Linked DNA regions of Homo sapiens. The protein of the gene in region 4 purifies or fractionates together with the protein of the main gene of each other region. This does not show direct contact. Each region holds a gene or a part of one and is shown on either strand. Other genes may lie near its edges. The genes, in order: NLN, ZNF639, POC1A, RASSF8, CREB3L2, UACA and PLEKHA5.

Evidence for each region.
Region 1: the proteins of RASSF8 (region 4) and NLN purify together in Homo sapiens (affinity purification with mass spectrometry; one large-scale study listed by BioGRID and IntAct). This does not show direct contact.
Region 2: the proteins of RASSF8 (region 4) and ZNF639 purify together in Homo sapiens (affinity purification with mass spectrometry; 3 studies listed by BioGRID and IntAct, with this or other methods). This does not show direct contact.
Region 3: the proteins of RASSF8 (region 4) and POC1A purify together in Homo sapiens (affinity purification with mass spectrometry; 4 studies listed by BioGRID and IntAct, with this or other methods). This does not show direct contact.
Region 5: the proteins of RASSF8 (region 4) and CREB3L2 purify together in Homo sapiens (co-immunoprecipitation; one large-scale study listed by IntAct). This does not show direct contact.
Region 6: the proteins of RASSF8 (region 4) and UACA purify together in Homo sapiens (co-immunoprecipitation; one large-scale study listed by IntAct). This does not show direct contact.
Region 7: the proteins of RASSF8 (region 4) and PLEKHA5 purify together in Homo sapiens (co-immunoprecipitation; one large-scale study listed by IntAct). This does not show direct contact.

The regions. Positions count from the first base shown.
Region 1 is NC_000005.10:65,826,081-65,830,306, forward strand, and holds the end of NLN (neurolysin, mitochondrial), read left to right. Parts: 3' UTR 1-3,203; downstream 3,204-4,226. UniProt on the Homo sapiens protein: Hydrolyzes oligopeptides such as neurotensin, bradykinin and dynorphin A. Acts as a regulator of cannabinoid signaling pathway by mediating degradation of hemopressin, an antagonist peptide of the cannabinoid receptor CNR1.
Region 2 is NC_000003.12:179,332,095-179,336,056, forward strand, and holds part of ZNF639 (zinc finger protein 639), read left to right. Parts: intron 1-894; coding exon 895-1,029; intron 1,030-1,174; coding exon 1,175-2,328; 3' UTR 2,329-3,962. UniProt on the Homo sapiens protein: Binds DNA and may function as a transcriptional repressor.
Region 3 is NC_000003.12:52,144,093-52,148,528, forward strand, and holds part of POC1A (POC1 centriolar protein homolog A), read right to left. Parts: intron 3,004-4,436; coding exon 2,896-3,003; intron 1,870-2,895; coding exon 1,754-1,869; intron 1-1,753.
Region 4 is NC_000012.12:25,956,690-25,961,717, reverse strand, and holds the start of RASSF8 (ras association domain-containing protein 8), read right to left. Parts: upstream 3,037-5,028; 5' UTR 2,570-3,036; intron 2,393-2,569; exon of another isoform or gene 2,276-2,392; intron 1-2,275.
Region 5 is NC_000007.14:137,903,981-137,908,416, reverse strand, and holds part of CREB3L2 (cyclic AMP-responsive element-binding protein 3-like protein 2), read left to right. Parts: coding exon 1-165; intron 166-2,568; coding exon 2,569-2,715; intron 2,716-4,399; coding exon 4,400-4,436. UniProt on the Homo sapiens protein: Transcription factor involved in unfolded protein response (UPR).
Region 6 is NC_000015.10:70,658,828-70,663,263, reverse strand, and holds part of UACA (uveal autoantigen with coiled-coil domains and ankyrin repeats), read left to right. Parts: intron 1-3,047; coding exon 3,048-3,113; intron 3,114-4,436. UniProt on the Homo sapiens protein: Regulates APAF1 expression and plays an important role in the regulation of stress-induced apoptosis. Promotes apoptosis by regulating three pathways, apoptosome up-regulation, LGALS3/galectin-3 down-regulation and NF-kappa-B inactivation.
Region 7 is NC_000012.12:19,370,122-19,374,141, forward strand, and holds part of PLEKHA5 (pleckstrin homology domain-containing family A member 5), read left to right. Parts: intron 1-600; exon of another isoform or gene 601-3,562; intron 3,563-4,020.

The DNA.
Region 1 (4,226 bases), on a different chromosome or scaffold from region 4:
AGGCCCCTCTTCCTCTTTTACTGACCACATCCCCAAAAGTGTCAGGTAGACATGTTACAAATAGCTCTGTAGAGAGCCATGGGAAGAGACAGGAGGCAGATGTGGAACATAAAGGGTTTAGAAACTTCTGCAGGCAGCAGTGGCAGGGAGCAAGCCCTAGAGTGTCTCTTTTTACGAGAGCAGGAATCCCATCATGAGAGTTCCTTCCTCATGACTTTATCTAAACCCAGTCACCCCCAACAAAGGCCCCACCCCCTAACCCCATCACATTGGCTGTTACGGCTTCAATGTAGGGGATGGGGCACAAACATTCAGTCCATAACGAATACTGATTCCTCAAATAGGGTTTAAACATAGTTAACTGAGCCCCCAAAGAATGTTAAAAGAGAAAATCCATTTTATTTGAATAGATGCAGTGACCACAGCTTCTTCCCTCAAATCAACACATTACAGTTAGATGTCTCCCATCTGAAATTGGATAGCCCACTGAAATTGAACATGCCTTCTCTTATAAATGTGTGGTGAGAATAAAAGCAACAAAGAAATGAATGTGGTGGCTCACACCTGTAATCCTAACACTTTGGAAGGTTGAGGCAGGAGGATCCTTTGTGCTCAAGAGTTTGAGACCAGCCTGAGCAACACAGTGAGACCCTGTCTCTACAAAAACTAAAAAAATTAGCTAGGGATGGTGGCACATGCCTGTAGTCCCAGCTACTTGGGAGGCTGAGGTGGGAGGATTGCTTGAGCCCAAGAAGGTCAAGGCTGCCATGAGCCATAATCACGCCACTGCACTCCAGCCTGGGTGACAGAGACCCTGTCTTAAAATAAAATAAAAAAAAAAGGAAAAGGAAAGACATACATACCCTCAGTTCTTCGAAAAACAGTCAACGTCCAAAAAGTTTATTTTTTGAGTCACCTTTAATAGAGAAATTTCCCACTGGAAACAGATCCACCTAAGTGATTATCTAGTATCAGCTGTATCAAGGCAAAAGGTAAAGGTTATAAGATGTAAATATTAGACCAAAATAGCCTTTTTTAACAAACACAATAATGCTGTACGTCTGTAACAAAACAAAATTTGAAAAATTGAGGTAATGTACACAGCGATGCACACACCCCCACACCACACCGTGATTCCTGAGTTTTGATTTGGTTGAATTCACCTTGTAGTTCCCTTTCCTGAGAAAATACAGGTTCAACACATCTAGTCCACGATGTACGTACAAGGGGAAGGGGTGAACAGGAAATAGACTCCCTTATTCTGCTCACATGAGCTGGAACCTGTACTAGCTGCATATTTCATAGACCCCAGAGGCTCACCTCAATTGTACTCCTATGATAAAATGTCTCTAGCATTTGTCATGAGAGAAACTGGCTAGAAATAGTTTGTTCATTGCGTCCAGCAAGACACGCATTGCTGTTGATATCTTTGTGGCTAAGATGGAGAATGTGACTGGATAATAGTTATCCAGGTGGATTACTAGCTATTGAAACAGTCTGAGATAGTTGCATGATGATTAACGTTAAACTGGGAGTAATTTCAAGTCATTTGGCTAAAAATGAAAAAAAAGTCCCATAAAAAGGTATCAAATGTACAGATAATAGGGCTGGAATTATTAAGTATGATGATGTTATTAACATCTAAAATTATTTTGGCCGGGCAAGGTGGGTCACGCCTGTAATCTCAGCACTTTGGGATGCCAAGATGGGTGGATCACCTGAGTTCAGGAGTTCAAGACCAGCTTGGCCAACATGGCGAAACCCGTCTCTACTAAAGAATACAAAAATTAGCCAGGTGTTGTGGCACATGCCTGTACTCCCAGCTACTCAGGAGGCTGAGGCAGAAGAATCATTTGAACCCCGGAGGTGGAGGTTGCAGTGAGCCGACATTGTGCCGCTTCATTCCAGCCTGGGCAACAGAGTGAAACTCTTGTCTCAAAAGTAAAAAAATAATAATGTTTAAAAATATTTCAATGTGGAGACAAGCTCAAAATGAAATTAGACACATTCCATTACCCAGGTAAAAGAAGGGGAAGCCTGACTTGATAGTAGTATTCAGGAAAAAAGAGTTGGCAGTTTTATTTGGCCAAATTCCAATATCAGCTCATGGTACAGCACACCGGGGGAGGGGGACGGGAGGCGAGAACTAAGGCTTTTTAAGAATGTGTTGATGGAAGTATGTGCCTAGATCAAAAGAATAATCCCCCCGGACTCCAGTGTAAGATCAATTACTGTTGGAATATTGTGTTCCTTTCTAGATATCACATTTTAAGCAGACTTTGGCCAAGTAGTACAGTGTTTGCAGGAGCAGTAACAAGATGGTGATAACTTTGAAAATACTTCTCAAAAGAAAAATAAAAAAGAATTAGGGAAGTTCAGTCTGGAGATAATTCAGAAATACAGATGATAATTGTTTTCAAATTCTTGAAGGAAATGGGAGAGAGAATAGGCTAATTCTGTATTGCTTCAGAAACCAAATGGAAACAATTAAATTCCATTAGAGAAACGGTTGGAAAATATGAGGAGGATTTAGTTCAGTACGAGGAAGCTGTTTCTAATACTTTTTGTTGGTTAAAAATACATTCCGCTGCTGTGGAAAGCCTGTAGCTGCCAGGAGTGTTACAGAGGGCATTCCTCCCTTGAGTTGACATTTGTGCCAAACCGGCTTTTAGGGCTTCTCCAGCTTTTAAGATGCGATAATGATAAGATGATCATCGGGAAAACATCCCTCAGATGAAACGTTCACAGGCTGGCTCTGAAAACTGGCATTCAGATGATTGCGGCTCCCCCATACTGTAGGAATATTGTTTATGGCTTAAGGTTGCCTCGCTCCTCATCTGTAATCAGTGAAAGTTTATCCAGAGGTTAATTACCGGTTTTCTGGTGGGTATCTGGGAACTGAGGATGGGAGATTAACTGTTGTATATGACCATAGTAAAGCAAAAGACTGTTAGAGAATGAGTAAACGTTCGTTTTCCTCCCTACAGAATTTACAGTTACTCTCTGTCCATTCCACTCACTACTGTCTTCATCACACACACAGAGGCAAACGTCTGATTCAGATAGCCAGGTGTGCCATGCATGCACTCCACCATATTGTGATCTCTTCGAGGCTTGTTTCTGTCCCCTGTCCTCCACAGTCCTGGATTGTTAATGAATAGTTCATACATGTTTGTTAAATAAATATACCTTCTTTAAAATTATCTTTTGTTATAAAGATGCCTTTTTCTATGGTAACTGCAAAATACCTAATTTGTAACTAAACCTAAAACTATGTGGATAAGTTATTTCTACACCTGCGGGGGGCAGATTTCTACATGAGAGTCCTTTCTTAGTGTACTGAGAGTTTCTGCATGAGGTAAATGAAAGAAACATGTTTTTTGTAAAAAAAAAAAAAAAGAAAAGAAAAAAATTGGCAATGGAGAACGTTTCTAAAGCTTCTCAGCTTCTCCCTATGATTATGTATTGAAACCTCGGAATTTGTTCATCTGGTTTTCTTGGGGGGTCTATGAAAAGGGCAGAGCAAGCAGATGTCCCATGATTGCCCTGAAATTATATTAGATATGTTCGTGTGCATGGATACCTGCATTTTTCTAGGGATAGAGTCCTTAGCTTTAATCAGAAGAAATTAAGAACTACTGTCTTTAAAAATGTGCTTTCAAACATTTGTTTTTTGAATTCATTTCAAAGACTCTAACGTGCCCATTATGTGTCAGGCGCTGTGCTTGGCAATGAGGATACAAAAAGACACCCCAGAACTGGAGCTGCTCACAGTGGAGTGGAGAAGGCAAATGAGTTCATAATTTATTGGGATAAATTATAATAGAAAGGCATGTATCCAAAACTTTTCTGTGTTTTCCCCTCAACCCTGGTTGACTCCACTATACAATTTGACTGTGGTGCCACAAAATTTTACATAGTTACCACGCCACCTGCCACCGCAGGCTTCTATTTTTAACAAAATAATTGCTTTTCTCTTTTCAGCATTTCAGGAGTGGGACCAAATGGTGTTCTATATCTGGTATATCCAGGAGTTTCTTAGATCTGGTAGTTAAAGGGCTTATAAAAAAGAGATGAAAATGTTCACTTTGCCACTTTTGTGCAAGTGGTTATAAATTGACAGCCATTAGAAGAATGATGTGGGACCCCTTTTAAGCTGATATGTATTAGATAGCCAAGAGGCATTGGTACATCCTATAAGTCTAGAAAACAGGTTGTTAAAATAA
Region 2 (3,962 bases), on a different chromosome or scaffold from region 4:
GGTATCCTGGAACAGAAAAGGGACATTAGGTTAAAAACTAAGGGCATTTAGATGACTTTATTGACTTTTATTAATAAGTTACCAGTATTGGTCATTAATTGTAACAAATGTGCCACACTAATGTTAGATGTTAGTAGTGGAGAAACTGGGATACATGGGACCTCTCCATACTATCCTCTCAGATTTTTCTGTAATTCTAAAACTATTCTAAAAAATAAGGTCTATTTTAAGAAAACATGATGGATGGGCTGAGTGTGGTGGCTCACGCCTGTAATCCCAGGTCTTTGGGAGGCCAAGGTGGGAGGATCGCTTGAGGCCAGGAGTTCAAGGCCAGCCTGGACAACATAGCAAGACCCCATCTCAAAAAACAAGAATTACCCGGGCTTGGTGGTGCATGTCTGTAGTCCTATCTACTCAGGAGGCTGAGGCTGAAGGATCACTTGAGCCCAGGAGTTTGAGGCTGCAGTGAGTGAGCCATGATCATGCCAGTGTACTCCAGCCTTGGCAGACTGAGCAAAACTTGGTCCCTCGCAAAATGTTGAAGCCCAGTTTTCACTATTAACCTGTATTTCAGTTTCCCCATGCTAACTTTGAAACACTGGGGCTGGCCTGAGGGTATAAAGGCTTATTCAAACTCAGTAATTTAAACTTAAAATCCTAAGGAACTTCAAAAAGTGTAATCTAGTCCAAATGGGGCATCAATTCTAAAGCATTTGCTTGTTTGAGCAGATTTTCTGTGTCTGAGGTATATAGATAACTTATCTTTTTATGACTAAATCCAAGTCCTTAGTTCCTGTTGGAATTCAAAATCATATTTAAAAATTGATGCTTTGTTCTATAATTAATGCTTTGATTGTATAAATAATAAGTATTCTTCCAAATCCCTTTTTACAGATGATGATTCTGATACCGAGACGTCAAATGACTTGCCAAAATTTGCAGATGGAATCAAGGCCAGAAACAGAAATCAGAACTACCTGGTTCCCAGTCCTGTACTTAGAATTCTAGACCACACTGCCTTTTCTACAGGTTGGGGGAACTAATTTATAGCATTGATATATTTTGTATTGGTGAATTTTAAAAAAAGTGCATGCAATAAATTTTTTTTTGCCCAGTTGTATTTAACAGATCTTATTTAGTTATAGTCATATAATAGGTTTGTTTTATTCTTCAGAAAAATCTGCTGATATTGTAATTTGTGATGAAGAGTGTGACTCACCTGAATCAGTCAACCAGCAAACCCAAGAGGAGAGTCCTATAGAAGTTCACACTGCTGAAGATGTTCCAATTGCTGTAGAAGTGCATGCGATTTCTGAGGATTATGATATAGAGACAGAAAACAATTCCTCTGAGAGTCTCCAAGACCAAACTGATGAAGAACCGCCAGCTAAACTTTGTAAAATTCTTGACAAGAGCCAAGCTTTGAATGTGACTGCCCAGCAGAAATGGCCTTTACTGAGAGCTAATAGCAGTGGCCTCTATAAATGTGAACTTTGTGAGTTTAACAGCAAATATTTTTCTGACTTAAAGCAGCATATGATCCTGAAGCATAAACGTACTGATTCAAATGTGTGTCGAGTATGCAAGGAAAGTTTCTCTACCAATATGCTTCTGATAGAACATGCCAAACTGCATGAAGAGGATCCCTACATTTGTAAATACTGTGATTATAAGACAGTAATTTTTGAGAACCTCAGCCAGCACATTGCAGACACCCATTTTAGTGATCACCTCTATTGGTGTGAACAGTGTGATGTACAGTTCTCCTCAAGCAGTGAACTCTACCTACATTTCCAGGAGCACAGCTGTGATGAACAGTACTTGTGTCAGTTCTGTGAACATGAAACTAATGATCCAGAAGACTTGCATAGCCATGTGGTAAATGAGCATGCATGTAAATTAATAGAGTTAAGTGATAAGTATAACAATGGTGAACATGGACAGTATAGCCTCTTAAGCAAAATTACCTTTGACAAATGTAAAAACTTCTTTGTATGTCAAGTATGTGGTTTTCGGAGTAGACTTCACACAAATGTTAACAGGCATGTTGCTATTGAACATACAAAAATTTTTCCTCATGTTTGTGATGACTGTGGGAAAGGCTTTTCAAGTATGCTAGAATATTGCAAGCATTTAAATTCACATTTATCTGAAGGGATTTATTTATGTCAATATTGTGAATATTCAACAGGACAAATTGAAGATCTTAAAATTCATCTAGATTTCAAGCATTCAGCTGACTTGCCTCATAAATGTAGTGACTGCTTGATGAGGTTTGGAAATGAAAGGGAATTAATAAGTCACCTTCCAGTCCATGAGACAACTTGATTATTCTCTTTAACTTACAGAATGTTAGTTTAAAATAATAAATTCATCCTTTTTTTGGAGATGATTAAATGGATGATTGTAAACACAACTTATGAAATCTGCCTTTAACAAGTAACTTTTTTAAATTATAAAATTTTATTGGCATTGCTCCATTTTCTGTATATAAATATATCTTTAATGTGGTATTTTCAATTGCGTGATAGTTTGTAGTTTCAACCACTCTTGGTGACTGTCATCCTGTTTCTTCCATATTCTCTGATTTCATGAATTGAAAAGAAACAAATGTATTGAAGAAGTGAGCTACAGTTTTCCTTCCTTAACCATGGGTGCTAGTAACTTTTTAAAACTCAAGACAAGATTAGTTTTTTATGTGTGAAGTCATTAAATTATTACACGACCAGAACTAAAATGCAATATACAGTTAAGTCCACGGATACTCCCATTAATGAGAAATAACACTAGGAAGCCACTATTACAGGAAGAAAAGATTTGGTTTTCATGGCAGTCTGTTTTTTTAAAAAAAAATTTTTGAGCCACTATCTATTGTTGAATATTTTAAGATGGGATGAGGGAGGAACTAATAAGGGCTTACACAATAAAAAATAACTATATCATAACTCATTCATAACTTGATGTTTCATTTTCTGTTGAGGAACCATAAATTCATTCACAGACTTAATATTTTTTTCTTAGAGATGGTCTCGTTCTGTTGTCCAGGATGGAGTGCAGTGGTTGATCATAGCTCCCGGGCTGTAGTCTCCCAGGCTCGAGCAATCCTCCCACTTCACCCTCCTGCATAGCTAGGACTACAGGCATGTGGCACCATGCCCGCTAAGTTTTTAAATTTCTTGTAGAGATGAGATCTCGCTATGTTGCCCAGGCCAGTCTCAAACTCCTGGACTCAAGCAATCCTCCCACCTTGGCCTTCCAAATCACTGGGATTATAGGCATGAGCCATTATGCCTGACTCTTGCCCAAATTTCTGATGTCAAATTGTTCATTGACAGAAAACCCACTGAAGTATTTAAAGTTAGGAAGATCTGGGAGATAGGGGTTGCTGGCATGAAAATGTATAACTTACAACATTTATTAATAAAATGATAAATTAGCATCAATATTAGTTCGTATGGCTGCCATAACAAATTACTACAAACTGAGTTGCCTACCTAGCAGAAATTTATGGTCTCACAGTTGTGAAGGCCAGACATTCAAAATGGAGTTATTGGCAGTTGGTTCCTTCTGAGGGTTGTGGGGGAAGGATCTGTTTCAGGTCTGTCCTTGGCTTGTAGATGGATAGCCTCATGTTCACATGGTGTTCTCCCTGTGTGCAAGTCTGTCCCCCAAATTTCCTCTTTTTTTTTTTTTTTTTGCTTTTTTAATTTTTTGAGACAGAATTTCACTCTTGTCGCCCAGGCTGGAGTACAGTGGCGCGATCTCAGCTCATTGCAACCTCCGCCTCCCAGGTTCAAGTGATTCTGCTGCCTCAGCTTCCCAAGTAGCTGGGGTTAACAGGCGTCAGCCACCATGCCAGGCTAATTTTGTATTTTTAGTAGAAACGGGGTTTCACCACGTTGGCCAGGCTGGTCTCAAATTCCTGACCTCAGGTGATCCACCTGCCTCAGTCTCCCAAAGTG
Region 3 (4,436 bases), on a different chromosome or scaffold from region 4:
CATGAGGAAGGCCTATTGCCACCCCCTTTACAGAAAGGAACCACAGCATGTGCTCCTGACCACTGTCCTGCCTCGTCGCCTTCCACTCCCATCTCTCCCTGTCCAAGTCCTCCCTCCTCTGCACCTGCCCACGTTCCCCAGGCAGCTGGGCAGATGTGCCCCATCCCCAAGCCCCAGCCCTTCACTCAGGCCTGGCCCAGAGCAGAAGGCTGAAGGAAGGATAGGAAAGATATGGGCTCCAAGTGGAGGCAAGCCCCACTGCTCTTCTGTTCCAGAAGCCTCTGTCTGAAAGAGCATTGGTAACAAACCTCAGGGCTTCCTATGGAGGGGGGTGGGGTGGGGGAACAGGTTCTTGTGGCTGGCCCCTGCCACCTGGTGGTGCTGTAGGGTACTACAGGCCTTAACCAACCAGGTTGGCCTCACCAGCCCAGACAGGACCAAGACAGTGTCATTGTCATCATCACTAACATTGTACCTCCTTCCCCCCATTTTGTGCCAGCCACCCTCTCAATTCTTGATATGAAACAACTCATTAAACCTCCCAACACCTCCTGTGAGACAGGCCCCATCATTGTCCCAGAGGCCCCACAGAGTCAAATGACCTGCCCAATATCACACAGCCAGGAATGCTTTAAAAGCCAGCTGCAGAGCCCACTCTCCACCATGTGCTGTTCAAGATTAGGATCTTCTCCCCATTCTGGGAAGGTGTGCTCACCTCTGTTACCCCAAAGAAAGTGCTGTACTTGAACACCAGGAGTCAGCTAGGAAGGGTGTGTGTGTGTCAGGGGTGGGTGGGGTCGGAACCCCACACCTGTGTCCAGCCATGTCCTTCCCATTTCAGGTGTGGCTTAAGGAAGCGAGCCCAAGAACTTTAAGCTTAGTCCCAGGTTAACAACCACGGTTCTTCAAACAACTCCAGCTCTGCCTCCTTCCTGGTCTCGGCCCTGGTCCAGTCTTGCTCATCTCTGTTTTGCCAGCTACACAATTCCCAGTTTCTCCAATGACCCCTCACCAGCTCCCTTCCCTGAGCCCATCCCTGGAACTGGGGCGCCTCATGGCCCTGCCCACTCATACTTGCTCTCAGGCCAGTTCCCTACCCAGTACTCTCAGCGAACTCATCCTGGGCATGTCTAAGTCTGCCCTCGCCCTCCAACTCCCACCTGGAGCCTGACATGAGCCCATGCCCACTGCCCGCCACCCTGCCTTCCAAGGGCTACCATCCTGGGCCTGGCCCCTAGCTAAGTCAACCCTCCCTATGACTCTACATCTGCGGAGGACACTGTAAGACCAGAGGTGGCCACGGTCCCACCAATGCTGGCCTCTACTGACAGCCCTGTTCCCTTTACCACAGGTCAAGGGCTGTCACCTTGGCCCTGGAGGGCAGAGCCTCCATCACCAGGAAAGGCAAGTGGCATGCCCCTGAGAAGTGGTCCTCAAGGGAAGCCCTGACCAGAGCCCCAGTGAGGACTCCCCATCTGGCCCTGCAGTATGTGTGAGATTCTGCCACTTCGGAGGTGAGCATTGACTGGCTCAGTGGAAGCCAGGTAGCACCAGGCTCCATCTCCTGGCCAAGGTTCCAAGCCAGGCCAGCCATGCCACAGACTCCCACCCCTGGAATCCCAACAAACCCAGGACACCTTCCTGCCCAAGGCCATCTCAGACCCATTTAAGCACTACAGCACAGGACAACATCCAACACCATCACAGTCCCACCAGGGCTGCCCTTGGGCCCAGGAGGCTGTTCACCACTCACACTGATAATGCTGCAGCAGCCGGTGAGTCCGCACGTCCCACACCTTCACTGTGTTGTCCATGCCGGCAGCGGCAATGCACGTCCCACTGGGGTGGAAGTCCACATAGGTGACAAAGCTGGAAAGACAGGGGCCACTATGCACTATAGGAGGTCTGCCCTGGTTCAGGACGGACCCAGAAACATTTGGTGCTTTCCCCATCCCTGTGTCCTGCCCACGCTGTTCCCTTGACCCAGACACCTCCTTTCTGTCACACTTGTTTACCAGGTGGCCAAGGGAGAGCAAGAAGAAGTAAAAGGTGAGAACAGTGGCCAGCAACAAACTAAGGTGGACTGACCAGGGAGCACATCCCACCGCCAATTTTCAATACAAGTTGAGAGAGCTATCTTCAAACCCAAAAGTTAGCCAGGCTCCCCTGGGATTTTCAAAGTTGGAGCTGGTACCCTTCCCAGGGGTGGCTGCAGGGCAGATCCTGCCAGCTGAGGCACAGGTGGGAAGGTCCAGCAGGACTACAGGGCCATTGGCCCACCCCTTTCTAGGAGACAGGCCAAGGACCCTCACCACACCCATATGTGATACCCAGGCTGGTACCATGTCCACCTCTCAAGGAGAAGCCCTTGTGGCTCCCAGCCCAACAAAGAAGGGCAGAAGCTGGGGTCTCTACTCAAATGTAGGCACCTCTCTCTCCTGATGATGTGGCACAATATGAACAGCCACCATCTGCTACAAGAACCCAACAAGAATTTTGTAAAGCCATCATCATGGATAACATACCAAGAGGCTTTAAAATGTAGTTTGGGCGACTGAGTGTCAACTGCTGCCAGACAGACATGTTGTAATCCTGACAACCAGAAAGTGAAGGAGAAAAAGAGGAGCACAAATAATTACACAGCTCCAAAGAATTGCATGGCTTGAGGTTAAGCACTCCTGCTATTTGTGGGATGGGGCCAAAGCTTCCATCCACACAGCAAAAGATACAATGCTAGGTTGCCAGACCTCGCAAAAAGCACCAGACAAGGGGCAGCAGTGATAAGGCTGCTGGTCCCACGGCTCCAGCCACTGAAGGCCACTGGGCCTCCTCATGCCCAGGTCTGTGCTCTGTGCTTGAGCGCCTACAGGTGGAGGACAGCATCTGGGGACTCACCCGCCATGCTCACAATACGAGTGGACACATTCCCGGCTGCTCTTGTCCCACAGCTTAACAGTCTTGTCATCACTGGCAGACACGATGAGCCGCCCGTCGGGGGAGAACCTGAACCGGGTGGGGCACAAGTCACATCACAGACTAACAGACGACATGGGCACCACACACCTTCTTCCACAGCCACTCTTCCCCGAGTGCCTACTATCTGCCTGCAGGAACCACCCGGGGTCACATGCCCTGCTGTGATTTTTTTTTTTTTAATTTGAATACCCTAATTTGTCTTTTCAGGAACAAATGCATTGCATCCTAGGAGGCAATGTTACTTCTGTTTATTTGGTCATATCTTAAATTATACTTTGTTTCTGAAAATAGTTAACTTTTAGCACATCATTTTTCTTTTTTCCTTCTGAAGAGTTTTTCAGGAAACTGTGACTAAATTTTGTTTTTGTTTTTGTTTTGTTTTTTAGACAGGGTATTGCTCTGTCACCCAGGCTGGAGTGCAGTGGTGTGATCTCAGCTCACTGCAGCCTCTACCTCCTGGGCTCAAGAGATCCTCCCACCTAAGCCTCCTGAGCAGCTGGGACTACAGGCGTGCACCACCACACCCAGCTAATTTTATTTTATTTTATTTTATTGTAGAGATGGGAGTCTCACTATGTTGCCCAGGCTGGTCCTCTAACTCCTGGAGTCAAAGGATCCTCCCACCTCATCCACCCAAAGTGCTAGGATTACAGACATGCACCTTCAAGCTCGGCCTATGACTTAATTTTAAATGTTATAAAAATGTTTCCTTTATTTTTTTCTTCCTGAATCTGTGAAACTTATTGATCTTTCCTGTTGCTCTTGTTTTCGTTTTCTTACGTAGCTTCATGAGCAAATAGCCCCTCTCCCATCCCAACAGCAAACTCTGACCAAAAGGGAAAAAGAGAAATTCTTCCTGACTTAGAGGAAAACCAAACATAAATAAACAAAAAGAAAAGAAAAAAAAAAAGGTGCCTGCCTCACGAGTGAGCACAGAGCAGCCTCATGCACATAAAGCCCCAGCACTGCCCCTGACGCACAGCACATGGCAACATGCAGCCGACTGCCTGCCGGCAACATTTGCATAAAGGTGGCCAAAAGCTCACCATCAGTGTCATTACTCTGGGACCAGGTCCTCCGAGTCTACATTTGACTCAAGTGCGGGTCAGCAAGACACAATCTGCCAACAAAAGGCATGAGGTCCTGGGGACTGCCACCAAAGGCCCAGTATGGACTTGACACCCCAGTTTGCTGGCCTGGCCCCTCCTGATCTCAGGACCCTAGTCATAAAGCCTCTAAGAGCCATCAGGGGTCTCCCAGGACAAAGGAATGGGGGTGCCCTGGAGAACAGTAACTTGTATGGGGTCCCCAGAAGAACACAGCTCAATAGTCCCCAACTTCTGACTCATGTGGTTTCCTAATGTCACCTGGCACCCCAACCCCTTCCTCTGAAGCAAAGATATTTGACCCATGGGGAAGCTCTGTTGAAAGGAATGAAATAAGCTAGAAGTAGGACTATC
Region 4 (5,028 bases):
ATGTGCCAGGCACATCTAATATATATTAGATGTTCTACTCACCATAGCATCCCTTTAAGTAGTGGTATCCCCATTTTCCAGAAATGCAACTGTAGATCACAGAGGCTGAAGTGGCATGGCCGAGCTCACTCACCTCGGGAGTGACAAAGTCACACGTGCAACCCAAGTCTGGCTGGCAGTGGGGTAAACATTCTTTCCACTATACAGAATACTTGGAAACTCTCTCTACACTTTGAATTTTTAAGTCTATTTAGGGTTAGAGCAAGTTAGCATCAAAGAAGAGTAAATAAACGTTATATTATTTTGTAATCCAAATCTTTAATTTATGATGCATGTTTTTCTATCCAACTCCCATTCCCACTCCACTTTTACTTGCAAAGAGTTTTGTAATGTTTTGAACACTAGCAAGATATCTAAGATCTTAATGTTTTATAATAAAGGAGCAAAGCCATTATGCCAGGAATTAACCATAAGAAAAAGACAACAATATCCCACGGCAAACAATATTTTTACTTCCAAGTCATTATATACATCAACATAAAACAGATCAATTAATGAGTCAGAAACCCTGAAGAACTAATCATTTCTCAAAACACAAGGCAGTCAGGTCAAAAACTGACGTAAGTCACCACGTATAGAAGCCTACAAGAGCCAAACACTGAAGATTCAGGTTAAAAGGTTGCAACCTTAAAAAAATAAATAAAAGGCAAAACAAATTATACAACCATGTCGAATTTTAAATCTGTAATTACCAAATATCTGAACCAAATGCCAAATTCAGGAAACATGCATCCTATAAACAACTTAAACACTCTCTGTTCTTTGTAACTGTTTTTTCCAGAAGCACACTGACACTTCTGCAAAGTGAAGTGCCTTTCCTGCCTGCACAGCCCCATGATTTGCTCCCTCTCAGGGCCCTCTAATGCACCCCTAAGCTACTAAAGCCCAGACATAAGATTTGATCAATAAACCTAGAAAGAACTCAGTGCATTACTGCCAATTGTGTCCATCACAGAAAGTACCACCTGGAGACTCTTGAGGAAAAAAATGAGGAAGGGGGAGATTTTTGAAAGGTTTTATCATCTGTATTACAAATTATATTTTGTTGTACTTGATCCTTGAATAGAATAATCATCAAACTATGTTCAGTCTTCTTCAAGTGGGGGATGGTCATGTGTAATTTTATGGTTTGGGGAGTGTGCCTCATAGAGATAAATAAAATTAAAAGTACCATTAGTATGCCCGCTAAAAGATAAAACTCACACAAACCACTTCCCCAAATGATAGTGCTGTCTCCTGCGTCCTGATTTTTGCGTCCACCCTGCACCTCTCCCTGCAGAAAGCTGGCTGGCATTCACTACCGCCTCACTCTGGCAAAGGACAGGATGTCGAAAACCCATTAAGAAAGCTTCTCATTTTCTGTTCCTTCATAACATGATGGCAACTCCTGGCAACTCCAAGATGAAAGGCAAAAAAGAAAATAAAAACTACCTGGGGCCCCCTACCAGAATGAGTGGTTAATCTAATGGAGAGAAAAGCAGAGATTTATACATATTTTAAAATGCTTCCTGGGGACAAAGCAGATCTAATGAATTGCTGAGCCACAATCTACTGGAAAATCCATAAATGTTCGTCCCTGCTGTCACAGGGCTAGAGGATTTTTTTTTTTAATGAAATGCTTTAATGCTAACCTGACAGGGCTAACCTGACAGGTTTAAGTCAGCTATGAGACGTGATTTGCATTCATTTCGCTTCTAAATCCCTAAAGATCAGCAACAATATTGACCCGCAATTATATATCCTACGTTGCACTGTTCAAGATGCCATTTGAGGCTGGGAAAGTAGTGGTTTAGCAACACCAGGCGGCTCTATGATGCTAAAATAACAACGCAACACTGGATTCCGAACCCAAGTACTCATCTTTTAAAACCCAGTGCCGCACCAGGACCCACATTCAAAGCTCGCGTCCCTTCAAGTTGAATCTTCCGGCTTTGTGCGATTTACCCTCTCAAACTTTCTAGTTTGCAAGTCAGAATTACTTTGAACGTCCCCTCTTCTGGACTCCCCTCCCCAAAGGGACTGGCGGCAAAGGAGAATAGAATGCAGATGGTTAATAGTTCAAATGAAATTTAAAAACCTATAAACCAATATTTTTTTAGAGGAGAAAAGCGTTCACCAAACCGCCACCCGGCAAGCGAGCATCCGATTTCCATCCGGAGGAAAAAATATTTTAAAAACCAGACATAAAATTCCCTTTGCAAGAAAAGTGGCCTCTAAACTCCCTTGCCAAGGACACTGGGAGGAAGCAGAAAAGCAAAGACCAAGCTCGTACTTTTCAGTCCGCGGCTTGTGTGCCGCGAGGAGAGGCGCAAAGGGTGACACACCAGGAAAGGTGAACGCAGAGGGAGCGGGAGCCCGCGGCGGGGCAGGGTGGGGGCGGAACGGACGAGGTACCCAAGGTGCGGAGAGAGGGGCAACCGGGCGGAGGGCAGCTCCGAGGCTGCAGGCGGGACGGGCGGGGTCCCCGGCGCAGCCCGGATCGCCGCCGCTAAGTAAAGTTAATACTTACTCAGTTTCGCAACTGCGCCGCCCCCGCAGGCCGCCCAGAGGGGCCGGCCGGGGCGCTGGGGACGCGGCGGCACCCGGAGCTCCGCGGCCGCCCAGCGCCCGTCCCCGCGCCGCACTCCCCGGCACTCCCCGGCGCTCCCCGCGCCGCGCGCCCCGCACCGGCTGGAGGCCCCGGCCCCCCGGCGTTCCCTCTCCGCGCACCTCCCGGCCCGCGCTAGGTGAGTGTGGACGCCACTGGCGGGGGTGCCGCGGTGCGCGAGCGCTCGGCCAGCGGCAGAGACGCCGCGGGAGCCGCCCCCAGCGCCAACGCCGCCGCGGGCGGGAAGGGCGAGGCTCGGCGAGGCTGGGCGAGGAGCTGGGCGGCAGACGCTGAGCGGGGCGCGGCGCGGGGCGCCGGACGAGCGCGGGCGTAGGAGGAGCGCGGGCGTAGGAGTCGGCGACCCGCTCGCTCCCGCGGCCGGTGCCTCTGGGCTGGGGGCCGGGCTGGGGGCCGGGCCGGGCCGGGCCGGGCCGGGCGGCCAGGCGGCTCCGCCCCTTCGCCGGGCAGCGGCTGAGCGCGCGAGAGGAGCGGCGCGGGGGCGCCCCCCTCGGCCGGGCGCTCGGGTTTCAGCCGCCGCTCCTCCGCGCCCCGCCCGCGCCTGGCCCGCTCGCCGGCGCCGGGAGAGACCTCGTAACGGAACTGGGACGCCAGCGCTGCATTGTGGGAGCTTTTAAAGCGGCGGGGAGCTCGGCGCGACCCTCGGGCCCACCGGGCCACGCTCGCCCGGCCCGCGACGCCCCCCCGCTGTCGCCTGGCCCGCGACGCACCGAGGCCTGAGGACCCGAAAGCCGGGCGCGGGGAGATGACCGGTGGCTCGTGACGGTCCCACGGGCAAAATCTTCCATCGCCCGGGGCTGAGACTTGTCAAACTGCCCTCTACGGTCACCCGGAAAGTAGGAGGCTTTTTCTGCAGAGGGGAAAAAAATCAAAAAGAGCCGTTCCATCCCCCCTCCAAGGACTGGGTTTGAATTGCTTTTCATCTGCAGTGGCTGTGATTCAGCGTCCCTCTTAGCAGCAGGCAATGACAGAGGCAGGAGAGGGGAAAAAAAAAAAGAAAGAAAGAAAAAACACAGCAAATGAATCAAACGGACGTGAGTAACAAAAGTTTAGAAAGAGCTGGGCTCGTATTCAGAAAAAACGCCTCATCCCCCCGCCCCGCTGCACTCCCAACCCCTTTAAAAATAGCAGATAATCAAGAAAGGAAACGGGTGCTTTCATATGGAAATACAGATGTGTATGTTGTTTTCAATATTCTACTGTTTTTTTGTGTGTGGCATGCAATTACTCAGGCACTGGGCAAAATTCAGCCTTTGGATTTTGTGGTCACACATACCCCAACTCCGCAACAGCTATTAATTTGCAGGGCGATGGGGTGCGGATAGTGGATGAGATACAAGAAAGCATTCCAATTAAAATGCCCCCCCCCACCCCGCCTTTTAATTTTCCAGACACTTGCTTTTATTTTTCTTTTTTTAAACATCATCAAAACAAGAATATTAAACTTGAAGCAGAATTTGTTACAGCGTATCTGACTCAGGACCTGATTTAAGGTTTGGGGTTTTTTGGCCCTTTGTTTCTTCCTCTTGTTTTTTGACCTTTAGTTACTCCACACCTCATTAGTTCCTTGACCTGCAGGTGGACTGAGAAGAGAGCCATGGTAAGACTCAAATTTGTCAAATCAACATTTGGAGAGGAGAAAGTTCACTGTGATTCAAATGCAAAACCAAAGGGAATATGATTTAAAAGTCAACCTGGAGGGCATGGATCCTCCCTTAACCCTACTTGACTCTTTTCAAAGGAGTTGCCTAGCCTTAAGGTGAATGTTTCCTAACCTCTCATTCCCTTCTCAGCCTTTCACTCCACTGAACAACATCAGCCATTGCTTAATTGCCAAATCTAATGGAAAAATTTAATTCCCATCTTGTGCCCTTTGTGGCATTTGCCAATGTTGACCTCTCCTTCTTAGAACTTTCTGCCTTTTGGCCGGGCGCGGTGGCTCATGCCTATAACCCCAGCACTTTGGGAGGCCAAGGCTGGCAGATTGCCTGAGGTTGGGAGTTCGAGACCAGCCTGACCAACATGGAGAAACCCCGTCTCTACTAAAAATACAAAATTAGCCGGGCATGGTGGCACATGCCTGCAATCCCAGCAACTGGGAGGCTGAGGCAGGAGAATCGCTTGAACCTGGGAGGCAGAGGTTGCAGTGAGCCGAGATCACGCCATTGCACCCCAGCCTGGGCAACAAGAGCGAAACTCCATCTCAAAAAAAAAAAAAAAAAAAAAAAAAAAACTTTCCTCCTTTCTTTGGCTGTGGTAGTGATCCCTCTTTTGTGTACTTCTTGAAGCAGGTAGCAGGCAAGAGTGTGGTTATCGTTGGACCAGGATTCAGGATCTGACTGAGTAGCTGACTCTTAATCCAG
Region 5 (4,436 bases), on a different chromosome or scaffold from region 4:
TTGCCGCCCACCCCTCCGAGCAGTCACGGCAGTGACTCAGAGGGCAGCCTGAGTCCCAACCCACGCCTGCACCCCTTCAGCCTGCCTCAGACCCACAGCCCCTCCAGAGCTGCACCCCGGGCCCCCTCCGCCCTCTCCAGCTCCCCTCTCCTCACGGCTCCTCATGTAAGTATGCAGCGGGCATTCCTGGACCAAAGGGAACCCTCTCCATTCATTCCCCTGGGGCTGTATCCAGAGCAGGACCACTCAAGGCTGTTTGGTTTTTACTTTTGTCAAGAAGTTTCTGCTTAATGGCGAAAGCAGAGTGATGTCAACCCTAAAGAACACTTTCTAGGAACTGCCCGCACATCTCACCTTTTACTACCACAATTCTCTTCCTTTTCACATGCACACTTCCAGTTTTTATTCATATGTTTATTTTACAGAGCTATAGACATGAGGAATAAAAATTTGGGGTTTTTCTCCTCAAAGTTCTATCATAAATATTTGCATTAATTTAATGGTCCTTGTGACCTATGTCATAGGAAATACCTTTTATATTTTAAAGAAGCAATTTTTGGTGAACTTAAAAATTACTCTGAGATTAATTTCTTTGATGCCTAAAGGTCAAAAACAGTTTAAGCCTTTTCTGTGTGTCATATGACTCTTAACCCAGAAACTCAGATCAGACATCAAGACCCCTCGTTCATCCCTCCCATACATGAGGACACCATAATAAAGAAGAATAGATCGTTAACTCCTTATTGTTCTAGGAGTGAATTGATTTCTATGAAATTTTAAAAATTATAATCAGCTATTTTGAATTCACAATCTCACAACTAGAAAATTTAAATGAAATGAGATGTTTTAAAATTCTGTAAGTACCATCCGTCCATTAATTAACATAACTTTGAAAATTTGTATTGATTCTGTCCCTGAAAGTTCTAGATCTGCAACCACATTCTTAAATTTCATCGTTACTGAGGACAAGGGAATTCACCCTTCCACTCTTTCTTCACCTTTTCACCTTGAACCTGACTTCACTCCTTGGATTACTAGAATAGCTTGTATCCTATATACCTGTGTGTACTACTATGATCTGTCCATTCTACATGTTTATGGAGGAACTCTTCCCCATGTCGGATGCTTGCCCAACAACTATGTTGTATTTCCCTGTTACTTGTTGGTACCAAGCCCTGACACCTTTACTCATTATCAGGTATCCAACCCTCCGCTGCTTCAAGAACTCCTTACCCACACTAGGCAGTGGCTTCTTCAGTGACTTTTCAAAATACTGCCTTTTGCTTAGAATGCACTCCTCTCTCTTATGTAAATCATCCCCTTTCTTTCAGGAGGCCCAATTCAAATCTCATCTCCTGCCCTAAACGTTTCCTGATCACACAACTCATAGTAGTGTTCTCTTACTTCAAATTTTTAGTACACCTTTAGCTAATGTATTAGTCCATTTTCATGCTGCTGATAAAGACATACCCGAGATTGGGCAATTTACAAGAGAAAGAGGTTTAATTGGACTTACAGTTCCACGTGGCTAGGGAAACCTCACAATCATGGTGGAAGGCGAGGAGGAGCAAGTCATGTCTTACATGGATGGCAGCAGGCAAAGAGAGAGCTTGTGCAGTGCAACTCCTGTTTTTTAAAACCATCAGATCTTGTGAGATTCATTCACTCTCACAAAAGCAGCATGGGAAAGACTCACCCCATAATTCAGTCATCTCCCACTGGGTCCCTCCCACAACACGTGGGAATTATGGGAGCTATAAAATGAGATTTGGGTGGGGACACAGAGCCAAACCATATCAGCTAAGATTACAGTTTAGCATTTAATTACTCTTATCCTTTCATGGGTATCAGTTCAGTCTCACAGTCTTGATCACAAGCTGCTTGAGAGGTAGGGTTTGTTTTGAGTCCTCCATGGCATTTAGTATGGAGCTAAAATGCAATAGGGACTCTGTTTGATTAATTATAAACATGCCATTCTACTGTGGGTTCCATGAGATGTGCTACTGTTCTTGTCTTCATTGTTGATGGACATTCTGAGACTGCTGAAGCCAGAGGCTTCTGTGGAAAGAGTCTGCAGATGTGTCCCTGGGTGCTCTGCACTCTTAGCTAAAAGTGGAGGAGAGAATTGACTCCTGTTGTGTAGAGAGCACCTTATAAAACTGCATTTTCAGAAGGAGAACAACAAAATTCTTGCACAAAGCAGGGCTGCAAATGAATCCTTCATCACTCCAAGGCCAGGAAATCTCTAGGGATGTGGGAAATGACTTCTCTGCTTTTTCTTTTCATGTTTTAGCGAGTAGGGTGCTTCCCGGGAAATAATGGGTGGAGGCTTCTTTATTCTTTCCCTTGAATTATAATCCCTAGGTTATAACACTCACATGGGGGTGTCTTCCCCATCTTCCCATGCCCTTCAAAATACCCATCTGTCACCCAAAGCAGATGGGGCATCCTTGTCTCAGAGCCTTCTGTAAGACATTGTAACAGATTCTCATCATCCCATTGGGAGGTGATTCTTCAGTGGTCCCAGTTCTTTTTCTTTGACCCTTTTCTGCTCCTTGGTCTGCACAGAAACTGCAGGGATCAGGCCCTCTGGTCCTGACAGAGGAGGAGAAGAGGACCCTGATCGCTGAGGGCTATCCCATCCCCACCAAATTGCCCCTGTCAAAATCAGAGGAGAAGGCCCTGAAGAAAATTCGGAGGAAGATCAAGAATAAGGTGAGCTCTTCAAATCTAGGCACTTCTAGAGCAGAGACGAGCAGAATCGAGTCAGCATCCCTTTCCCTGCCTTCCCAACGGCCAGCACTACCCCATCCCATGGTGGAGACCAAGGCCCAGCCCTTCCCTTCCCTAAGCCCTGGGAGGAGCACCCTCACCACGTGCCCCTCTCTTCCTCCAGCCCATCCCATCCCTCTTGAGGCCAGCAGACTCCCAGATCAGTATCTACCTCTTTGGTGCCCACGATGATACATTTACGGGTGGGAGGAAGCTATTAGAATTTCCATCTAGTTTTTTTTTTTTTTTTTTAACTCAGCCTTTTAAATTTTGGGTGTATGATATATACAATAGTTTCCTCTAGTAGACATATATATGTACTCTATGTATCTATATAAAATACAGCATATATATATATTATATATATATAAGATACAAATACATTGCAAGTGCTTGGTTAATTTTTTTTTTTCTTGGTAGGGTTTTGTGATCACAAAACTTCTGCAGTTTGCTGGTCTATATTTGGACTCAGTAGTCTCCTACCCCTGGGCCCCTCAGTGCTGAGCAGGCCTGATGAAAACCAGGGGGATGGCTGAGGCACAGGCCTACCAGGAGGGAGGGGGCAAAGAGGGAAGGAAGACAAGAGCTTAGTGTCACTCTATCCATGTGCGGAACCAGCAGCAAGTTGATGTATGACCAAGCCAGCTGTCTTATTTTATATATGTACTTCAGCCAGCAGAGGTCCAGGAGTTAAACTCATTTATCTGAGACCACACTGATGGTTTGTGAGCCACATGTTCTGGCCTGGCTCTTCACTCAGTGTCCATTGTTTTCTTTTCTTTTCTTTCTTTCTTTTTTTTTTTTTTCATACAGAGTCTCACTCTGTCACCCAGGCTGGAGTGTAGTGGCATGATCTCGGCTCACTGCAACCTCTGCCTCCCAGGTTCAAGTGATTCTCCTACCTCAGCCTCCCAAGCATCTGGAACCACAGACGTGTGCCACCATGCCCGGCTAATTTTTTTGTTTTTTGTTTTTTGTTTTGAGATGGAGTCTCTCTCTGTCACCTAGGCTGGAGTGCAGTGGCACAATGTCAGCTCACTGCAACCTCTGCCTCCCGGACTCAAGCGATTCTCTTGCCTCAGCCTCCCAATTAGCTGGGATTACAAGCATGCACCACCGCGCCCAGCTAATTTTTGTATTTTTAGTAGACGGGGTTTTACCATGTTGCCCAGGCTGGTCTTGAACTCCTGACCTCAGGTGATCTACCCGCCTTGGCCTCCCAAAGTGCTGGGATTACAGGCTAGAGCCACTGCGCCTGCCATTTTTTTGTATTTTTAATGGAGACAGGGTTTCACCATGTTGGCCAGGCTGGTCTCGAACTCCTGACCTCAAGTGATCCGCCCACCTCAGCCTCCCAAAGTGTTGGGATTACAGGTGTAAGCCACTGCTCCTGGCCACTCAGTGTCCATTTTACTGGTGGCCTGGTTTGTAGGAAAGTAGGTGTGAGTTTGGCAGCTAGAAACCCGGGAGGACAGACTAGTCAATGAACCAGCAGCTTAAACAAATGGCAAGCAGCTTGCAGAAGTAAGCAGGGCTTTGGTGACTTCTACGCTAACCACCTCCCATCTTAACTGGTTTACTTACAGAGCTGGAAATTAATCATTCTCCTCCCACTCCTCTCTCTCAGATTTCTGCTCAGGAAAGTAGGAGAAAGAAGAAAGAAT
Region 6 (4,436 bases), on a different chromosome or scaffold from region 4:
GAGCATTTTTTCATGTGTCTTTTGGCTGCATAAATGTCTTCTTTTGAGAAGTGTCTGTTCATATCCTTCGCCCACTTGTTGATGGGGTTGTTTTTTTCTTGTAAATGTGTTTGAGTTCATTGTAGATTCTGGATATTAGCCCTTTGTCAGATGAGTGGATTGCAAAAATGTTCTCCCATTCTGTAGGTTGCCTGTTCACTCTGATGGTAGTTTCTTTTGCTGTGCAGAAGCTCTTTAGTTTAATTAGATCCCATTTGTCAATTTTGGCTTTTGTTGCCATTGCTTTTGGTGTTTTAGACATGAAGTCCTTGCCCATGCCTATGTCCTGAATGGTATTGCCTAGGTTTTCTTCTAGGGTTTTTATGGTTTTAGGTATAACATTTAAGTCTTTAATCCATCTTGAATTAATTTTTGTATAAGGTGTAAGGAAGGGATCCAGTTTCAGCTTTCTGCGTATGGCTAGCCAGTTTTCCCAGCACCATTTATTAAATAGGGAATGGTTTCCCCATTTCTTGTTTTTGTCAGGTTTGTCAAAGATCAGATAGTTGTAGATATGTGGCATTATTTCTGAGGGCTCTGTTCTGTTCCATTGGTCTGTATCTCTGTTTTGGTACCAGTAGCATGCTGTTTTGGTTACTGTAGCCTTGTAGTATAGTTTGAAGTTAGGTAGCATGATGCCTCCAGCTTTGTTCTTTTGACTTAGGATTGACTTGGCGATGCAGGCTCTTTTTTGGTTCCATATGAACTTTAAAGTAGTTTTTTCCAATTCTGTGAAGAAAGTCATTGGTAGCTTGATGGGGATGGCATTGAATCTATAAATTACCTTGGGCAGTATAGCCATTTTCATGACATTGATTCTTCCTACCCATGAGCATGGAATGTTCTCCCATTTGTTTGTATCCTCTTTTATTTCATTGAGCAGTGGTTTGTAGTTTGCCATGAAGAGGTCCTTCACATCTCTTGTAAGTTGGATTCCTAGGTATTTTATTCTCTTTGAAGCAATCGTGAATGGGAGTTCACTCATGATTTGGCTCTCTGTTTGTCTGTTATTGGTGTATAAGAATGCTTGTGATTTTTGCACATTGATTTTGTACCCTGAGACTTTGCTCAAGTTGCTTATCAGCTTAAGAAGATTTTGGGCTGAGATGATGGGGTTTTCTAGATATACAATGATGTCATCTGCAAACAGGGACAATTTGACTTCCTCTTTTCCTAATTGAATACCTTTTATTTCCTTCTCCTGCCTGATTGCCCTGGCCAGAACTTCCAATACTATGTTGAATAGGAGTGGCGAGAGAGGGCATCCCTGTCTTGTGCCAGTTTTCAAAGGGAATGCTTCCAGTTTTTGCCCATTCAGTATGATATTGGCTGTGGGTTTGTCATAGATAGCTCTTATTATTTTGAGATACGTCCCATCAATACCTAATTTATTGAGAGTTTTTAGCATGAAAAGTTGTTGAATTTTGTCAAAAGATGGGGTCTTCTATGTGGCTTAGGCTTGTCTCCAATGGGGTCTTGCTATAGGCTGATCTCCTGGGCTCAAGTGATCCTACTGCCTCAGCTTCCTGAGTATCTGGGACTATGCTTTTAATTATGCACTAATACACATTGAAATGCTAAGTAAAACGGCCCAGTCACATGTAAATTGTTGCTGATGTTTCCCTATTTCATAGAATTGTTTGAGTTATTTTTTAATAGAAGAAAGGTTTTTTGTTTTGTTTCTTTTTTAGTGTTTATTTTTTAACACTGTAGGCCTACAGATTAAGGATGGCAAATTGTGGATTTGGATCTTATCCAAAGAGTATAGTGTCCCTTTAATAATTGGAAATATTTGTTTATTGTTTATTATGTTCATGACCCTGTGCTAAGTGGGATAAAGAAAGTATGCCATTCCTGTCCCCAAGGAGTTCTGGGTAGTTAGAGAGGCAAAATACAGATTCATAAAAAGTAAAAATCACAAGATGAGAGATGTCAAATGTAGAACTGAGAATGCAGATTCTAAGTGATAGGGGTTTCCAGGAAGGAAAGATTAGTGGTGTGGTAGAAGCTAGTTTTTAAAGAAGGGAGTACCTGGCTTGAACTTGTAACGTAGATGCTATTTTGGTAGGTGAAAGGAAAGTAGAGGCTCTTCCATCTAAAGAAAATAGTGTAAAAGAAGCGTGGAGATGGAATACAAGTGGCATGGCCAGAGGGCAGTAAAAGCCCTGCCTGTAGAGTAGTCCCTCTCTTATCCACTGAGGGTATGTTCCAAGATCCCCAGTGGATGCCTGAAACCATGGATAGGACCTGCTGAATGAACCCTATATAAGCTATGTTTTCCCCCCAGATATACATACCTGTGATAAAGAGTAATTTATAAATTGGGCACAGTAAGAGATTAATAACAACATAATAAAATAGAACAATTATAACAATATGTTGTAATAAAAGTTATGTGAATGTGGTCTCTCTCTATATCTCAAAATATTGTATTATACCATGGGCAACAGAAATAGAGAAAGTGAAACTGCTCATCGCAAAACTGCCAATAAGAGGGGACTGCTGTATTTGAAAGTTAATGTTTGAAGCCAAACTGTGGAAGTCATTGAGAACCAAACTGATGAATTTGGATTCTCTCATGTATGTAAAGAAGTGTCACTCAAGGTTTTTGAGCCAAAAGTGATGTGAGGAAATAGGTACCTTAGTCTCAGAGGCATGGTAAGGAATATAGTGTGGAGATAGTAAGACAGGATGGGAAGCGTTTGCAATAATCCAGACATGTGATAAGTGTCTTCAGAAGTTCATGGCACTAGATATGAACTAAAGCAATAATTTGATGTTGCTTAGGGAAAGTAGCATTACTGTCATTAGCCACACATTCTTTACAGAAGTTTATATTGTTACGTTTTGAAATTCTGCATCTGGTAGGTCCAAGGTAGTTTGTTGTTAGAAGTAGCAGGATCGCCTTAATAATAATAATAGTTTTGTAGCATGAAGCCTGAGCATTGTCCAAAGTTTGGAAATGTGAACGCTGATAGTCACATCTGTCCATCTTTCCACATTTCTAGGATGCTGACAGACAGCACCAAGAAGTAATTGCAATTTATCGGACACACCTTCTTAGTGCTGCACAGGTAAAGAACTACTTCTCCTTTGGAAAGAATATTGCTTTAGAGATAATAATTTTTTATTTTCAAATAAATTTATGTGAAAGTAATTGATGTTTAAAGTAGCTGCACCCCCTATGCTTATTTAAAAATAATTATGTTTCTTTTAATCATTGTTTGTGGATCTCCCAGAAAAATTTACAAAGCTATATGGCAACACAACATCTTAAATTTAGTGTCGTCTCCATCTGCTTGTCACTCAGTTTATAGACAGTTTGGTAACATGTGATGGTAGCACACGTTAATGGTGTTGCTAGCTGGAGATAATGCCTTGACATCCACGTGTGGCTGTCATCTAAGAGGAGAGTGGGAATGGCTTTGAATACTAGAAAAGTACAAAAGTGACAAGCAGGGTGTTATGTGTATAGGATTGTAGTAATTAAAAATGATCTGTTTTACCAAGCCTTAACTTGGCTTGGTAAAGCCAAGGATTAATTAAGGAATAACAGTATGAATTCCCTTTTTTAGGGGTGTACTGAGAAAGTTATTGTTAAAATCATACTAAGAAATTACTAACATATAAAGGATACTATGCTTAATTTCCTGTAGAAACCCCGTGAGCAGCATCTTCAAAATTCTCAGAATAGATTTTTTTTCAGGAAGAAAATGTACTAAAAGAAACAAATTTTAGAATGACAGAGATCCTGGGAATTATTTGGATTTGAAGTATGTTAGGCCACACTGTAAAAACAAGCAAAAAAAAAAAAAAAAAAAAAAAAAAACAAACAAAAAATGAAGAAGGGAAAGATGGATGTTGAGAGAAAGCTTCAAAAAAAGAACAATTTTAAAAAGAGAACTAGATAAAATAATAAAAAGAAAGATACTTTATGATATCAAATTCTTAAAATCAATAGACCTGCCTCTTCTATAGGAAATGGAGGGGAAACTAATGAAAAAGAATGAATGATATGATAGAACAAGGGATCTTAGCTACTCTCTTTTGAGCAAATCAGAGATAAACTAGAATCTTAAAGTTTATTGCAATTATTAGAGAAGATTATTGAGGGACAGTGAATAGGAAGTTCAAGTGGGGAAATAGCAGAAAATCTGTATTAGAGAGGCTGAGAAACTCACTAGTATTGGCCATGAGAGGAAGAGGTTGCTCCTAATGAAAAATACAGCAAACTAACAAGCCTTTCCACTTTGTATAATATGCACTTCCGGAATTTGAAATTATTTTCTACTGTGTCCTAATGAAACATAACAAAAGCAATTGACATCAGAAATAGTCTTGCCTTCTGGCATCATAAAGTTAACTAAGAAATTCAGTTCAGTCAACTATGGCTAATG
Region 7 (4,020 bases), 6.6 Mb from region 4:
GAGAATTTTGTTTAAGTCATTACACGTTGACTATGTAATGCTTTTTACAGTTAGGGTGACATGTCTGCCCACTGGGAGTTTGCTAATTATTGTAAATGACAATGAAATGTTTATGGTACAGCCAACTTGATGGAATATTAAAATCTTTAATGTCTATCTGATATTATTTCTAAGTAATTGAATTCTATTAAGTCAGGGAGGTAATTACTAAAACCATGGATGGTATCAGGGAGAAGAAGGAATCCTTTCTTGAACAATGTTCCTTAGAGCACAGATTTATAATTGAGAATAGTTTCCTGAATTCTTACTTTTAAACTTTCTAGACAATTGCTAATTTTAACCTAGAATTTAGTACTTATAGCGTACTCTAAAAGTTTTTTAACTTTTTATAAAAGCTCTGGTGTAGAGTAAGAATGTTATGCCTTTTTCTGCATTTTCTTTCTCACAGCATCTACCATATCTAGTAAGTTTGGTGCTTTAGGATTACCACCATTTTCTGCTGAACAGCAGCAGAAACATATAGAGACATTATAAGCATTAGTACTAACATCTTTTTGTTTTTTTATTTTCTTGTTTTTTTTATGTTATTTCTTTTTTCAGAGATGTCCCCCATGCTGGAGTGTAGTGGCATAATCACAGCTCACTGCAGCCTTGACCTCCTGGGCTCAAGCAGTCGTCCTGCCTCAGCCTCACAAGTAGCTGGGATCACAAGTGCACGCCACCACACTCGGCTGATATTTCGATTTTCTTATAGAGACAGTCTTACTAAGTTGTCCACGCTGGTCTCAAACTCCTGAATTCAAGCTACCCTCCCACTGCATGAGCCACTGTGCCTAGCCTCTTTGATTTTCACATTCTCAAAATATTTCTTTTATTTTCTCTCCTTTTTTTTTTTTTTTCGAGGCAAGGTCTTACTCTGTCACCCAGGCTGGAGTGCAGTGGTGCAAGATCATGGCTCAATGGCTCACTGAAGGCTGACCTCCCAGGCTCAAGCAATCCTCCCACCTCAGCCCCCTGAGTAGCTGGGACTACAGGTGTATGCCACCATGCCAGGCTAATTGTTTTGCAGAGATGGAGTTTTCACCATGTTGCCCAGGCTGATCTCAAGCTCCTGAGCTCAAGTGATCTGTCCGCCTCAGCCTCCCAAAGTGCTGAGATTACAGGTGTGAGCCACCACACCCAGCCTTTTTTCTTCCTTTTCAAGCATTTTTTAAATTTCACTAGCTTTGGGTACAAGTGGTTTTGGGTTACATGGAAGAATTGTATAGTGGTGAAGTCTGAGATTTTAGTGCACCCATTACCCGAGTAGTGTATGTTGTACCCAATCCTTCACCGACCTTCCACCCTCTCCCTTCTGAGTCTCCAAAGTCCATTATACCACACTGTATGCCTTTGCATACCCATAGTGTAGCTCCAACTTATAAGTGAGAACATATGATATTTGGTTTTCCTTTCCTGAGTTACTTTACTTAGAATAATGGCCTCCAGCTCCATCCAAGTTGCTGCAAAATACATTATTTTGTTCCTTTTTATTGCTGAGTAGTATTCCATGGTGTATATAAACCACATTTTCTTTATCCACTCCTTGGTTGGTGGACTCTTAGGTTGGTTCCATACCCTTGGAGTTGCAAATTGTGCTGCTATAAACATGCATGTGCATGTATCTTTTTTATGTAATGACTTGTTTTCTTTTGGGTCGATACTCAGTAGTGGGATTGCTGGATCAAATGCTGGATCTACTTTTAGTTCTTTAAGGAATCTCCACACTGTTTTCCGTAGTGGTTGTACTAGTTTACATTCCCACCAGCAGTGTAAAAGTGTTTTCTTCTCACCACATCCATACCAACATCTGTTGTTTTTTGACTTTTAAATTATGGCCATTCTTTTTTTTTGTTTTTGAGATGGAGTCTCGCTCTGTCAGCAGGCTGGAGTGCAGTGGCGTGATCTTGGCTCACTGCAACCTCCTCCTCCAGGGTTCAAGTGATTCTCCTGCCTCAGCCTCCCCCGTAGCTGGGACTACAGGCGTGTGCCACCACACCCAGCTAATTTTTGAATTTTTAGTAGAGATGGGGTTTCACCATGTTGGCCAGTATGGTCTCGATCTCTTGACCTCATGATCCGCCCACCTCGGCCTCCCAAAGTGCTGGCGTGACCCACTGCACCCGGCCAATTATGGCCATTCTTGCAGGAATAAGGAGGCATCTCATTGTTGTGTACCTTCTTTTGAGAAATGCCTATTCGCGTCATTTGCCCACTTTTTGATGGGATTATTTGTTTTTGTTTTTTTTTTCTTGCTGATTTGTTTTGAGTTCCTTCCAGATTCTGGATATTAGTCCTTTGTTGGATGCATAGTTTGCAAATATTTCCTCCCATCCTGTTTTCTGGAATCTACTTCCTTTCACACCTTATTGTAGGAACTATAATCTGTGCCCTTTTTTTCAGCCCAAAGTATTTTGTTGTCTTTTCATATTTGTAACTTTTATTTGAGATTATGTCTACCTGGAACCTCAAAGAGGCTTCTGTTTTTGTCAGTTGGTATCTGTGCAGGACTGAAGTGCTTGCTGGAGAGTTACAAATAACCTAACTGTGATAGTCTTACCTGTGTTCTGCCTTTGTCACTTGTGTTTAAGCCTTTTTTCTTTTTTCTTTTTTCTTTTTTTTTTTTTTGTTGAGACCAGGTCTCACCCTGTCACCCACACTGGAGTGCAATGGTGAGATCTTGGAGCCTTGCCCTCCTGGGCTTAAGTGATCCTCCCACGACAGCCTCCCAAGTAGCTGGGACCACACGCCTGTGCCACCAAGCCTGGCTGATTTTTTTGTATTTTTTGTAGAGTAGGGGTTTCACCGTGTTGCCCAGGCTGGTCTCAAACTCCTGAGCTCAAGCGCTCTGCCCGCCTCAATCTCCCAAAGTGCTGAGATTACAAGATTGAGCCATCACGCCTGGCTATGTTTAAACTTTTAATTTAATATGTTTAGAAATGACTGTTGAGGCCAGGTGCGGTAATGCCAGCACTTTGGGAGGCCAGGGCTGGTGGATCACTTGAGGTCGGGAGTTCAGGACCAGCCTGGCCAACATGGTAAAACCCCATCTCTACTTAAAAATACAAAAATTAGCTGGGCATGGTGTCAGGCGCCTGTAATCCCAGCTACCTGGGAGGCTGAGACAGGAGAATCGCTTGAACCTGGGAGGCAGAGGTTGCAGTGAGCCGAGATCACACCATCGCACTCCGGCCTGGGTGACAGAACAAGACTTTGTCTCAAAAAAAAAAAAAAAAATCTGGGTGTGGTGGCCCACACCTGTAATCCCAGCACTTTGGGAGGCCGAGGCAGGCAGATCACCTGGCTCCTGACCAGCGTGACCAACATGGAGAAACCCAGTCTCTACTAAAATTACAAAATTAGCTGGGCGTGGTGGCACATGCCTGTAATCCCAGCTACTTGGGAGGCTGAGGCAGGAGAATCGCTTGAACCCAGAGGCAGTGGTTGCAGTGAGCCGAGGTCGTGCCATTGCACTCCAGCCTGGGCAACAAGAACGAAACTCTGTCTCAAAAAAAAAAAAAAATGGTGACTGTTGCTACTGGTGACGTAATAACACAAAACATAGGAAAAATAAACATTGGACTCATTTGATTTCATCTATGTAAAGACTTGATGACCTCTTAGTAGAAAAATGTATACATTAAGAGCCATTCACATAATATTTTGATTCAATAAACAGATTATGACTGTACACATATCCTTCCAATAATAAAGGATATTCAGAGTTAAAACTCAAGTATATTTCCAGGTTCCTTAAATTGTTATAGGATTTTATTTTGTTTTCTTCTTATTCCAAGAGCAGTGGCATACTGTAATGAGGTATGATTATTGTCGGATATTTTCTAGTCTCATGGTATGCAACTACCACAAATAACTAAAGGCATGAAAACTTGTATTATTTCATATCTTCCTATTATGCATATGCCATCTTTCTGAACTAGTGGTTTTGGCAGGATTTAGGAAACCTTTACAAATGACACT